Homo sapiens: one gene and its partner. The protein of the gene in region 1 interacts with the protein of each later gene in a pairwise test. Each region holds a gene or a part of one and is shown in the gene's direction. Other genes may lie near its edges. The genes, in order: RNF144B and UBE2U.

Region 1 (7,170 bases):
TCAGGCCAGGACCATGGTGTACAGCTGAGCAGGTTGTGCAGTACACAATTCCAGGAGCTGCCAGTCACTGCCTCCACCCCAACCACCACCCTGGCCCATCAAGATTTGTATCGTGCAGGCATCTCCGTGTATCAGGCACTTTGGTAGCTACTTAAAAAAACCACTTTTACCCTCACAACAGCCTATGAGATGAATGTCATCATTCTTATTTTATAGATGAGAAAACTGAGTTTCGGGTATATTAAATAACTTCATTAAGGTTACATAATAATGAGTGGGTAGTGGAGTTTGCCAAGGTCCAAATCCTCTGCTTCCCTCTATAGCATGTGGGTTGTCTTAGCTTTTGGTAATCTCATCTATGGCCACCACCTAAATGATGGCAATTCCCAAATGACTCTCCACCCTAGATCTCTCTCTGTTGATAGCCTACTGGTCAGTTTTTCCAGTATGCCCCAGAGGCACTTCTGATTCTATAGATCTTAATTTGAATTATCATGGTTTCCTTACCATCACTTCTCTTTTATTCCCCCTCTTAGTGGTGCCAGCAGTTGGGGCTATTCTTTTTCTCTTATCCCCCTGCATCTGATATAGTTTTGATGTGTGTCCCTGCCCAAATCTCATATTGAAATGTAATCCTCATTGTTGGAGGTGGGGCCTGGTAGGAGGTGATTGCATCGTGGGGGCAAATTTCTCACGAATGGTTTAGCACCATCTCCCTAGGTACTGTCCTGGGGATAGTGAGTTCTTGTGAGAGCTGGTCGTTTAAAGGTGTGTAGCACCGCCTCCCTCCCCCCTCCCCCCGAAACGCTCTCTTGCACCTACTTTGACCATGTGACAGGCCTCTCCAGAGGGCCAAACAGATGCCAGCATCATGCTTAAAGCCTATAAAGCCTGCAGTACTGTGAGCCAATTAAATCTCTTTTCTTTATAAGTTACCCAGTTTCAGGTATTTCTTTATAGCAATGTGAGAATGGACTAATATAACATCCAATCAGATACCAAGTTCCATCACTTCTGTTTCTGAAATCTCTCTCCATTGGTTCCCTTCCTTTGCATGGCAGTTGTCACTGCATTAGCTCAGACCCTCATTCATTTATTCTGGATGTATCAGCTCTGTCTGAATTATGAAAAATTTCACCTAGAGTCTCATGTCTAACCCTTTGTTTTAGCTGTTTGCTCAGCCTGGTTTACCCTTCTCTACCACACCTATTGGGCTACTTGAAGACATAGATTTAAATCACTGATATGGTTTGGATCTGTGTCCCCAGCCAAATCTCGTGGTCGAATTGTAATCCCCGATGTTGGAGGTGGGGCCTGGTGGGAGGTAATTGGACCATAGGGACAGAGTTCTCATAAATGGTTTAGCACTATCTCCTGGTGCTGTTTTTTGTGACAATAAGTTCTTGAGAGACCTAGTTGTTTAAACATGTGTGGCATTTCCCTGCCCCACCCCGCCTTGCTTCTGTTCCAGTCACGTAAGACATGCGTGCCTGCTTCCCCTTCACCTTCTACCATGATTGTAACCTCCCTGAGGGCTCCCCAGCCATGCTTCCTGTGCAGCTGCAGAACCATGAGCCAATTGAACTTCTTTTCTTTATAAATTACCCAGTTTCAGTTATTTCTTTATAGCAATGTGAGAACAGATTAATATAATCACCTTCTCAGAGAAGACTTGATTCTTTTCATCAACTCCTTTCCTTTAAATTCTTCTTCTCTGTGCTCCCAATAGCACATCATGCTTAAGTCTATCATATCACACATTATGTATCACTCACACATTGGGTACAACTATCAGTACCCTGATAATTGATTTGCTTGTCTTACTCCTTCCCTGGATTGAGAGGTCTTTGAGGACAGGGAGACCATGTCTAATATCATTATCTTAATACAACCTAGCAGATTGTCTGGGAGGAAATCAATAAATGCTCCAGAGAATGAATATCCATTCACACTGTAGACTCCTTAGGAAGATCTGAGAGAGTTTGTTCACATAATATTATAGCATTCAACGTGTTTATTTAGTCTTATTAAATTTTGACTGCAATTTAAAAAAAATTTGCATAGTTGCATGGTTGAAAATAATCAGTGGTGATGTTACTCAGTTGTGCAAAATATTTGGGATAATAGGCAGCACTATTCGTGCTTATGTTCTCATTCATATTGGCAGCAGCTTCTTCCCTTATCCTGTTAACAAGAGATTATAATTTATGAATGGTAATTTGAAAAGTGGACTCTGTGTTGAACTTTGGTTTAAGGCTCAGGAGATTTGCATCAACACCAATGAATAAACTAACCTCTTAGAGGTTGCTTTTTATCTTTCCTAGTTCCTGTCCACCAAAATGGTCACTATACCAAGAAAATTCCTTGAAATAGATTATCTCAGAACCTAAGCCATTGCTAAATCTGAAGGTTGGACTTCCTTTGGGATGGTTTTCATTTACATTCACCTTCCTCATGTAACTCAGATTTAGGTCTCATTCTAGCTTGGCCTGTGTCTGGTTTGGGCCAATCTCTTAAATCTTCCTGGACATCAGTTTCCTTATTTTTTTTTTTTTTTTGAGACAGAGTTTCGCTCTTGTTACCCAGGCTGGAGTGCAATGGCGCAATCTCGGCTCACTGCAGCCTCTGCCTCCCAGGTTCAAGCGATTCACCTGCCTCAGCCTCTCGAGTAGCTGAGATTATAGGCACCCACCACCACGCCCAGCTAATTTTTTGTATTTTTAGTAGAGACGGGGTTTCACCATGTTGGCCAGGCTGGTCTTGAACTCCTGACCCCAGATGATCTGCCCGCCTTGGCCTCTCAAAGTGTTGGGATTACAGATGTGAGCCACCGCACCCAGCCCAGTTTCCTTATTTTTAAAATCAGGTTATTTGCTAAAATAGCTAGGAAGACTTTTCAAGCTCAAATATCCTACCGTGGGTTCTTTTATCATCTTATTGCCCCTGTCCTTTTTCTCTTCCTCCCTGACTGGTGAGCTGGTCCTCCTACCTGCCCTAGCATGGCACATGTAGATACACTGTGTTATTCAGCACTTTGCTTTGACCTAGAGGTTTTCTTCAACTTGGAGGGCTGAGAAGCAATGTTTGCTTGTGTCGTTTGGAATGGTGCCTGTTGGCGTGCACAGATCCTTTCCACAAAGGGCCTGTGAGTCCCTTCCTTTTAGGAAGCACATTCCTGACAGTGGTTGCAAAAGTAGAGAGGGATTGCAGAGTGAACACAGATTCTTGTGTCAGAGCGACATTCCTAAATGGCAATGTTCAGCAGACTTAGGTGATTGTGATCTATGGGGGATATGGGGAATGAGTAGGTATGCGATTCATTATGAATGTCACACAAATGAAGTGTCCAAGGGTTTGGAGCAAGGAAGCACTTCATAATACCTCACAGCTTCTGGATTATTTTGTTACATTTTTGTTTAATTGAGGGTACAACCAGTTAAGTTACAAAGCACTTCAAGTGAAATCATTGTTTCATCAAGAAGTGTCTGTATTTTATGAGGTAAACTAAGATTATTCCCGATTTGATTCACAGGTATTCTAATTTCATCATTAGATGCAAAAGGACAAGTGAGGTACAAGCTGTTTTTTGATGAGATGTGCATGGGAAGTGTTTCTATAAAACAGTTGTCTGCCACGTGGGAAGGCAGGTCTGGGCTGTTAGAAGTAGAAGAAAGAGATTTAAAGAGCTGGGAAGGAGGGAGAAAATAAAGAAAGGTGGCCTGTGAGGATATGTACAGACAGAGAGGTAGCAGGCGCTTAAGGCCAAGAGGTGAGCTGTCCCTGTCTGGGCAGAAGAAGTGCGCTAGGGGCAGCTGCCTGCACCCCCTGCTCTGAATTCCTGCAACAGCGGTCCCAGGAGAACAAGAGACAGGTCCTGACAAGCAGTAGAGTCGGTGCAGCGCGCCCGGGTTCGGATAGGGTTAAGGCCAACACCTGCAGCTGAAGTACGACCCACATGGGAAGTAGGAAGTGCGGCGCCTGAGCTTCCTGTATAAATAAACGCGCTGCTACCGCTGCTGGCGAGCTGTGCCCCACGCTCCCGCTGCAACAGTCCCGGGCATCGCAGCTGCCAGTCAAGGCTAGGAGGCGGTCGGGGACTCCGCCTCCTCCCGACCCGTAGGTCTGGGAGCGCAAGTCCTGTTGCAGTCTTGCAAAGTGTAAAGCTGTCAGCCGCAGAGCACGGAGGAAAGACGGAGAGAATGGAAGAGCTCCTGTCCGGTGTGCCAGCAGCCCGGACTGGCGGTGAGCGCGAGGGAGGCTACTGAGAAGCCCGGCGACGGAGGAACGCAGGTCTGCTGCCAGGTAGGTTTAGCGAGCTTTTTAAAGGCTACAGGCGTTGCAAGACCGGAATGGTGTTGCTGGACTAAGGAAAAAGGACAGGAAACTCACTGTGACACCACAATTTTTCGATTTTCTGTCTCTAGTGCTCAAACCATACAGAACTGAATTCATTCTGAATGCCTTAAACACCTGTTAACTTAGAAGAAAAATGCCTTTGTTAAAGGAAAGTAGTTTCATTTCTAATAAAACAGTTTCTATAATAGAATGTATTGTAGAATCCGAGATTAGACCAGACCTCTCCCTAGGTCTTAAGGGGAGACCAAAAGTTGGCATAATCTCGGATTATGCATTATAGTGCTTATTTTATCAGGTAATTGCTAATGAAACAGTGAAACTCTGATACTACGAGAGCCATTCTCAAATTTAAGTTAAAATCGAACTGATTGTCGTTTGTGCAGGGAAAAGGTAGGTATCTTTTGCTTATTCTTTCTAAAACACCTTTTGTTTTTCTCATGAGTTTCAAGGATCCTGCTGTAAGTCTACTCCTCATGCATATACACTATTCACATAAAGATTTCCCAGAAATTAATTCCCTTCTCTGGGAAATGTTCTTTTTTCATGTTCTCATAACAGACTGTCAGTTTCATATTGCTTTCTGCCACATGTATCTTATCAAAACATTAGCTCTGAGGTTCTTAACAGGACTATCTCTGCTCTTCCGATTTGGCATTTCTGGACGTTTATTTGAACATTGAGAGGTATAAATTAAATGGCAATGTATCTAACATTTCTGAGGAAGCAGATTAGGGGGTGTCTGTGCCCAGAAGCAAAATAAATGAACTTTGGGATGACTCAGTTTTTAGGGTGTGGGTAAGAGGCAAAAGGAACCTAGCCAGTCCTAACTGAGTTGCTGGCTAATTAGAGTATCTGTCTGCCGCAGCTTTCACTGAAATGAGCCTCTTGGTCCCTTTCACATCAAATCCCTCTGTGAGTCCCTCCTTCTCCTTAGTTTATCTTTCCTTCACAACCTGGGTCCTTTTCATGGACAGCAGTGCCTTAAATACTTCTAAAACTATCCTGAGGGGGAGAAAAACCTATAGCAGATCCACAAAGCCACTTGTAGATAATTGTATTATGAAATCCAAGGTCATGGTTTCACACAACTCCTGCTCTGCCCTTGCACACCTTTGACTGGCATTTTTTTTTTTATTTTTGTCGTGGGCATAAACTTAGAAAAGTGGGAAAGGGAAAAACCTCAGTTTCAAAAGTAGTCTCTGACTAATTAATTATCTTGATTAAAAAAAGGTAAACATATATAGTGAACGTGAAAAAGATGTTGAGTAGTAGAATTGGGTTGCTTGGCTTTTTATTTAAAACAAACAAAACTCAACCAAAAAAACCCCCCAAAACCCCAAACAATCACCCTAGATAACTTTCTCCTACACTACTGTGCTGGAAGTCGGGCTTGAGTGTGGTCAAATCCTGCCCATTTACCCAGAGTTTTACAAATATTTACAGTCATCTATGCCAAATATCTTTGTGCTGAGTCCCAAAGAACATTCTCAGCATTCAAAAGGCCCATTCTCATGAATGGTTTCAGTTCATTGGCAATTTAAAGGCATTCAGGCTTCCAAACTAGGTCAGCTTAAGACATGTCTTTTTAAAATAATCAGTTTTTGGGTCTCAGATTATGAACCAGGTTTTTGGAGCCAAACTCTACAGCAGAGAGAAGAGTATGCTCTCTCTGGAAAGAAAAAGCTTATTTTATCTACCTGGTATGACCATTTAACTTCCTGAAAAACGTCTTTCTCCTCAGTAGTATGAATATTTTTCATCTGAGGAGGTGCACTTAAAATTTCCTTCTTGAAAAGTCATTTCAATATTTTAGACGTTTAGAAACATTTATATGTATGTCAGAATCCTTTCTCCGAAGTGTTTCTGCTAATCCTGGCTTCTTTGTTTCCCCTGGCCTTGACTTTATGACATTACTTTCTTGGAGAGTGAAGTTTTTAGTGTTTGAAATCTCCAGTTTGAGATAGAGGTCAGGAATCATGCTGAACCCAGATGTTACTGAAGGAACAAAGTCTGAGCAGTTTTGGGACTAAGCCTACTTTGTACAACTGATTATTTTGGATGTGGGAAAAGGGCCAAGCTGCCAGACAAGTCATGCTTTTCACTTGGACTTTGGGGAATAGGTATCTGTAGCCATTGCTCCTAAGTACTGAAACATTTCTTTCAGGGGTGCCTACCTTAATTTATAGAAGCTCCTTACCTGAAACAAATGGTCAATATTTTCAGCTTGTGAATTTCTGGAAGTGAATACAGATGAGAACCAGGCCTTTAATATTTTCTCTCCTCCAAGTACAATCAGAAAAGTTATCCACTCTACTACTGAGTGACTGATTTGCTAGGTGCTAGGTTAGATGCTGGGATATAAAGATGGCTAAGATGTGGTCTCTGTCCGGAAGAAATTCTCATAAGGTCAGAAGTGACTTGGGTCTAGAGTGGTAGTTCTGAATTCACATTGCTTTGCCAGATTATAAAAAGTACTTCGATGTTTGTCACCTCGATCATCTTAATTTTCTTGGTAGTGTTACCTTGACCATTTGACCATTAAGAGGTATATGACACCTAAGTTAATTTATGTAAATATTTTAATTCATAATTTTTACCTTTAGGTGTATGTGGGAGGTCTTGGACTAAAGTTTTAGTTTTATTAACTTTGGCATTTGCTATTTACCCAGTCGGTGAGTACTTTGGAACCTAATGCATCATACCATAGTTGTTATTAAAAAATGGATAACTATATATTAAATGAGTAAAAATGACCAATGCTTCTGCAACGTGGAATGAGGATCTTCTCATCTATGAGCAGATCTCTTTCTTGAA
Region 2 (7,303 bases), on another chromosome or scaffold:
CAAATTTCCAACTGGGACAGAAGCTTGGTTGAGAGAAACAGTAATGAGTTGATTTTTGGACATTTGAGTTTGAAATGTGTTTGGGACAAGACAGCTGGGTGACAACCAGGCATTTGGATATAAATTAGTAGGTATACTAGTCAGAAGTCCCAAGAAGAGGTCAAAGCTAGTAATATAGGTTTGTTGTGGGGGGAGTCATATGAATATCTTCCAACTTGATTTTCATTGTGCTAAAGTATCATATAAATGCCATCTTCTAAAAATTCACAACAAAAAATGTTTTTCTTTACCTTAATTTTCTTTTACCTTACTTACTTTTATCTTTCTTTTACTTTAACAAAATTTTCCCTAGAATGAAATTCTAAACAAAAGATGGAGGATTCTTATTGTATGACATGATGACTACAGTTAATAAAAATATGTTGTATCTTTGAAAATAGATAAGAATAGATTTTAGGTTTCCTCAACATATGAGGTAATGCTTATGTTAATTAGCTCAATTTAGCCGTTCCATAACATATACATATTTCAAAATATCATGTTTTCCATGATAAATAAATAAATATATTTTTTAAATACAAAAGATTCTGAATTCATTATCACAATAATCCATTAGGGTGGGAGAAAGGATTGTGGGACCACAGTGATATGGACAAACCTAGTTACGATCTCCAAATTGGGCCTATTCCCTTCTCACTGAAGTAGCCCTTTACTCACTTTCACCTGATATTTCCAATCCTATGCAAGCCCATGTTGAAATCTGATGGGCTGGAAAGAAGGGCCAAAATATTCAATCCCAGATCCTGTTGATGTTTTCACAGGAAAAAAATCCTTTCTATTTAGTTTTAGGAAACATAGAATAATAGCATTTTATTGTGTCAGCATTTTAGTACAGTGAATATGTTGTTGGTGATTTCTAAGCTACCATACCTGGAGGTGAAATTTACTGTGGGATCCTTCCAAGTGGTCCCCCCCAACAATTCATTCTTCGTAGAGCAGCCAGAGTAATCAAGTAAATATAAATCAGAGCATGCTCTCCCTCTCCCTCTCCCTCTCCCTCTCCCTCTCCCTCTCCCTCTCCCTCTCCCTCTCTCCACGGTCTCCTTCCACGGTCTCCCTCTGATGCCAAGCCAAAGCTGGACTGTACTGCTGCCATCTCGGCTCACTGCAACCTCCCTGCCTGATTCTCCTGCCTCAGCCTGCCGAGTGCCTGCGATTGCAGGCGCGCGCCGCCACGCCTGACTGGTTTTCGTATTTTTTTGGTGGAGACGGGGTTTCGCTGTGTTGGCCGGGCTGGTCTCCAGCTCCTAACCGCGAGTGATCCGCCAGCCTCGGCCTCCCGAGGTGCCGGGATTGCAGACGGAGTCTCGTTCACTCAGTGCTCAATGGTGCCCAGGCTGGAGTGCAGTGGCGTGATCTCGGCTCGCTACAACCACCTCCCAGCCGCCTGCCTTGGCCTCCCAAAGAGCCGAGATTGCAGCCTCTGCCCGGCCGCCACCCCGTCTGGGAAGTGAGGAGCGTCTCTGCTTGGCCGCCCATCGTCTGGGATGTGAGGAGCCCCTCTGCCTGGCTGCCCAGTCTGGAAAGTGAGGAGCGTCTCTGCCCGGCCGCCATCCCATCTAGGAAGCGAGGAGCGCCTTTTCCCCGCCGCCATCCCATCTAGGAAGTGAGGAGCGCCTCTTCCCGGCCGCCATCCCATCTAGGAAGTGAGGAGCGTCTCTGCCCGGCCGCCCATCATCTGAGATGTGGGGAGCACCTCTGCCCCGCCGCCCTGTCTGGGAGGTGAGGAGCGTCTCTGCCCGGCCGCCCCGTCTGAGAAGTGAGGAAACCCTCTGCCTGGCAACCGCCCCGTCTGAGAAGTGAGGAGCCCCTCCGTCCGGCAGCCACCCCGTCTGGGAAGTGAGGAGCGTCTCCGCCCGGCAGCCACCCCGTCCGGGAGGGAGGTGGGGGGGGTCAGCCCCCCGCCCGGCCAGCCGCCCCCTCTGGGAAGTGAGGAGCCCCTCTGCCCGGCCAGTCGCCCCGTCCAGGAGGGAGGTGGGGGGGTCAGCCCCCCGCCCAGACAGCCGCCCCGTCCGGGAGGGAGGTGGGGGGGTCAGCCCCCCGCCTGGCCAGCTGCCCCGTCCGGGAGGTGAGGGGCGCCTCTGCCCGGCCGCCCCTACTGGGAAGTGAGGAGCCCCTCTGCCCGGCCAGCCGCCCCGTCCGGGAGGGAGGTGGGGGGGTCAGCCCCCCGCCCGGCCAGCCGCCCCGTCCGGGAGGGGGGAGAGGGGGTCAGCCCCCTGCCCGGCCAGCCGCCCCGTCCGGGAGGTGAGGGGCGCTTCTGCCCGGCCGCCCCTACTGGGAAGTGAGGAGCCCCTCTGCCCGGCCACGACCCCGTCTGGGAGGTGTGCCCAGCGGCTCATTGAGAACGGGCCATGATGACAATGGCGGTTTTGTGGAATAGAAAGGCGGGAAGGGTGGGGAAAAAATTGAGAAATCGGATGGTTGCCGGGTCTGTGTGGATAGAAGTAGACATGGGAGACTTTTCATTTTGTTCTGTACTAAGAAAAATTCTTTTGCCTTGGGATCCTGTTGATCTGTGACCTTACCCCCAACCCTGTGCTCTCTGAAACATGTGCTGTGTCCACTCAGGGTTAAATGGATTAAGGGCGGTGCAAGATGTGCTTTGTTAAACAGATGCTTGAAGGCAGCATGCTCGTTAAGAGTCATCACCACTCCCTAATCTTAAGTACCCAGGGACACAAACACTGCGGAAGGCCACAGGGTCCTCTGCCTAGGAAAACCAGAGACCTTTGTTCACTTGTTTATCTGCTGACCTTCCCTCCACTATTGTCCTATGACCCTGCCAAATCCCCCTCTGCGAGAAACACCCAAGAATGATCAATAAAATAAATAAATAAATAAATAAATAAATAAATAAATCAGAGCATGACACTCTCCTGTTTAAACCCATTAAATGGATTCCCATAGCTATTCAAATAAAGCCCAAACTTCCTACTGTATAGTGCCCATCTTTATCACACCCCTCCCAGGCTCCTCCACAACCTCCCTGACCTTCCCTTGTTCCCTTTTCAAGACAAGCTCTTTCCTGACTCAAAAATATCTTGTTTTCCTCTTCCTAGAACTCTCTGCCCTCAATATTTCATGTAGCAGGCTCCTTCTCATCTTTCATGTATGAGTTCAAAACCCCATTCCTTACAGAGGCATTTCCTGACTACCATTTCTAATCCTTAATGACCTACCCCAATCTCTATCATGGTACTGTTTTATTATTGTCCACATAACGTTTATCACCATCTGAAATCATGATTTTTGTTTTGCATACTTGTTTATTGTATATTGGAGCCATAAAGACATTTACTTCATTTGAATCTTTCAAGTAAAAAAAAAGTATTTAATAAATATTTGTAAAATGAATGGACTAAATGAACATCCGGATTCTATAAAATTAGTAAGTAAAAAGTAAAAAAAGAAAGTATTCTGAACAAAGATGCCAGGCTTTGTAGTTGGCGCTGGCAATGGAACCGTGTCTTTCAGTAGTTCCCACTCTGGTGAAGACAATAGACAATTGTGATGCCGTATGGCAAATGTTAACTAGGAGGCAAATAGAAGGTCCTGTGGGATCACAAAAGAAAGGATCCCTTAAAGAGTCGTTAAAATCTGAAGGATGAGTGAGTGAAGGGGAAATGAGGGCTGAAGGGGTGGAAGGAATGTGGTAAACTCCTAGGTAGAAGGAACAGCAGGTGCGAAACTGTGCGGGAAGAGATGGGAATCAGAGAAATTTTAAGCAGTTCCCTGTTCCTGGAGCACTTTCCCAGGGTGATTGTAGGGTTTGATGACATAATAGCATGCACACTACTGTGAATGGTAACTCGCCATGTAAGTTAAGATATTGTTATGCAGACCTGTACCTACCAGTCACTTACTATATCTTTTGATAGTCAAAGAAAAAGGAAGGATAATTTCGAAGAAAGACTTCGTGGGACGGCTTCTGTGACTTACATGCTGGGTCCTGGGACCTCACCCCATCCTCTACACTAGTTTTGTACAGTCCATGTTCGTGGCCTGAGAAGGCGTGGTGTTGCCTTGACCACGAATCTCATTGGCCTTTCAAAGGGGAAACTGTTGTAGGATTGGCTGTGGAGATAGCAAGAGGCCTGCCCCCTGTCGCTGATTGGGTGAGAGCGGCCAACCCCCTGCCTCCGTCTCTCGGCGGCCCCACGGGGGCCTGTTGGTTGGCAACCGATTTGCTTCCTCCGGTGCGTGGCTGCGGGGTTGCACCTGTGAAGCGAAGACAACCTGCTAGGACCCTGATAGGCGTACACCTCTCACTCCCACTCACGCGCCGACGACATGGGCTTGTCTCCGTTACTCATCCAAGTTTGTCTTGAGACTGGGCTGTGAGCCGGCACTGCAGTGAAACGCCGCAGATGAGGAAGTGCCCAAGTCTTCCTTCGGGAAGTTCTCGTTTAGAGGAGTCAGGAGAAAAAGTCATTGTTATATCCCAACTTTAGAAGCCGCTTATCTTGGTACCGTTCTGAGGTTCTAGAAAGCAAGTAACTTATATCAGTTTACTAAGTGTGGGAAAGTGACCCATAACTTCAAACATCTGCCTCAGAGTAAACCTGAGGCATTTGGGGACAAGTGTCAGACCCTCCGCTGCCTATCATGCACGGCAGAGCTTACCTCTTGCTGCACAGAGACTTCTGTGATCTCAAGGAGAACAATTATAAGGTAAGTACTGGGCACGTGGAGAGATGTGTTTCATTGTGCAATAATTTTTAAGAGGCAGTTTAACCCATTTTATTCTATAAGTAGTAATTTAGTTAAACCTGATTTGCCACTACAGTATTGTTATTTAATAAATCCATTTCACTGAAGTAATGTGTTTCATATTAATAACAATTATTATTACTTCAAAATAATAATGCTTAACAATATTGAACATATTATGCAGAGTAATTTATGTGGATCTAGGCACTGAATATCAGGGTCTGTCATGTAGTTAGTGACTAGTAGGTGCAGGCTTATGCTCATTAATTATAATACTATACAATAAGTAGTATTTCATTTTACTTACCAAAAACCTAAGCCTCAGAAATATTCTGTAAAGATTTTGCCCCATGATTCCATTACAGGGTTTTTGGACTTCAAAGCCCTAGTTCTTAATTCCTGTGTTCCACTGCTTACTGTCTAGTGTACTTTTACCAGCATGACACATAAATGCCTTCCCTTTATAGTTTTAACACAAAAGAAGCAATGTCCTTGGGCTTAAACGCCACCAATGAGGTTATCAATGTCCATGGCTGCCACAGGCTGATTTACGGAAAATGAAAAATGGAAGAGGGGGCGAAGAGGGAGTGCTTAAGAGAAAGAACAGAAAGAAAGCTGTCCATGAAAGGTATAGAGTGCTTCCCACAGTTGCTTCAGGTGTAGTTCAGTGGCATTGTTCATTTTTTACCTCTGCTATAAAAGTACTGCATTCACTGGAGATGTTAGGAACAATTATGGAGTCCAACAGCGAACATTCCTGGGGCATGGACCTAACATTTGATATTGTTTCTGCTCATCCTGAGCTCTGTAGTTCTCTGTTGAAAGAGAATCCAATGAAGGAATATGTAAATATAGATAATAGAGAGACAGGGCTCACCCAGACAAGCACTAACATACTTAATAACTATGTGGATGCTCAGAAGTGTTTTTATGTGTTTGTAAGTGTGTTACTTAACGTAATTCATAAGGTTTTCTATGAAATACATTCTTGTCCCTCCATTGGAACAACTCCTCAAGTATAGGAAAACTTTGCTTTTATATACAAGTGTAATTTTGGATTTTTTCTTAATGAAAATGTTCCCACTTCATGCCTTTCATATAGCATTCATATAGCTCTAAAATGTTTTGAAGAAACATGCACTTTCCAACTATTTCTTTCTTTTAAAATTTGAATATTAAATTGGTTATTGATTTACACAAACAGTATATAAGCCACACATTCTAATCTTGACTCTCTAGTCCCACTTGTGATTTCCACACTTATGATTTATTTTTAATTACTATTGCATATGTTTTCTGGGATCTATATTAACTTCCGTGAAATAAGACATGTAACACTTCCCCAGAGCAGCAAATAAATAAACTTATCAAGGAAAGAAAATTTAGAGTTTTTAGAATTCAGTGTGACCTGGTATATGATTTTCAAAACTTCAATAAATACTTAATAAGTTTTTTCTGATTTAATTTTGTTTTTAACTTCAAGGGTATCACTGCTAAGCCTGTAAGTGAAGATATGATGGAATGGGAAGTTGAAATTGAAGGTCTACAGAATTCAGTTTGGCAGGGTTTGTATTTTCAAAACCAATCTATTTTTTAAAAAAGTCTTTATACCATTATTAGCCCATCCTCTTTTTATGTAGGATAAGGTCGCATTATATAAATTTCCTGAAATTCTTCTTCATATGCATAAGTTTGCATTATACCAGTTGTCTAAAATTCTAAAAATATTCCCATTTTTTTTATTTATGACTTTTTTGCCATGTGTCAACATAGATGGAAATTTGGGGTATTTTTCTTTATGCCAAATCTTAATTTTATTACATTTTTAAGAAGCAGACACAATAGAGCATATCAATTGAGAGAATATCGTCTGCCTTCCGTGAGATCAGGGAATAACTATCAAAATTCCTATTGGCTTCAAAACCCCACAGTTACTTCTCATTTTTTCCTTTATGATTTTCCCCCAAATTTTCATAAATCAAAAAATCTCAAGAACACTAAGCCACTATAAACTTTAATGCTCATGTTTTCTTTCAATTATGGATTAATAAGATAGATTCCTTGAGTGAGGTAGGGGAGACAAACACATCAGCTGATAATTACAATAAAATATACATTATTATGGATTTTGAACAGAATGCTAAAGAGGAAGAGGATTAGTTAATTATGCCTGAGGGAGTCAGGAATGTCTTCCCAAGGAGATCACATTTGAGTTGAGTCCTGAAGAATCTGCCAGGTTCAGAAGAAGGATAAGGAAATTCGGGCAGAGTAAACAGCACAGCAAAGACTTGTAGACAAGAAAGGGTGTAGCAGATTTTGGGAACATGAGTTCAGTCAATACGAGATACAACAGAGGGGGTGGATGTTAGGGCGACAAAGGTAGTAGATGGAAAGGACTAGTGGGAAAGAGACTGAAAACGTATGATTATAATAGATTGTGAAGTGTCTGTTATACTATCCAGAGGAGTCGGTGCACTCTATGAATCAATTTACTTAAAAATAAAACTGTGGAAAGACTAAACCATAGGGAGAA

What was found.
Region 2: the proteins of RNF144B (region 1) and UBE2U interact in a two-hybrid assay, tested with the Homo sapiens proteins (2 studies listed by BioGRID and IntAct).

Annotation. Positions count from the first base shown.
Region 1 is NC_000006.12:18,383,329-18,390,498, forward strand, and holds the start of RNF144B (E3 ubiquitin-protein ligase RNF144B), read left to right. Parts: upstream 1-4,021; 5' UTR 4,022-4,302; intron 4,303-7,170.
Region 2 is NC_000001.11:64,199,386-64,206,688, forward strand, and holds the start of UBE2U (ubiquitin-conjugating enzyme E2 U), read left to right. Parts: upstream 1-4,237; 5' UTR 4,238-4,665; coding exon 4,666-4,731; intron 4,732-5,155; exon of another isoform or gene 5,156-5,398; intron 5,399-6,253; coding exon 6,254-6,335; intron 6,336-7,303. UniProt on the Homo sapiens protein: Catalyzes the covalent attachment of ubiquitin to other proteins.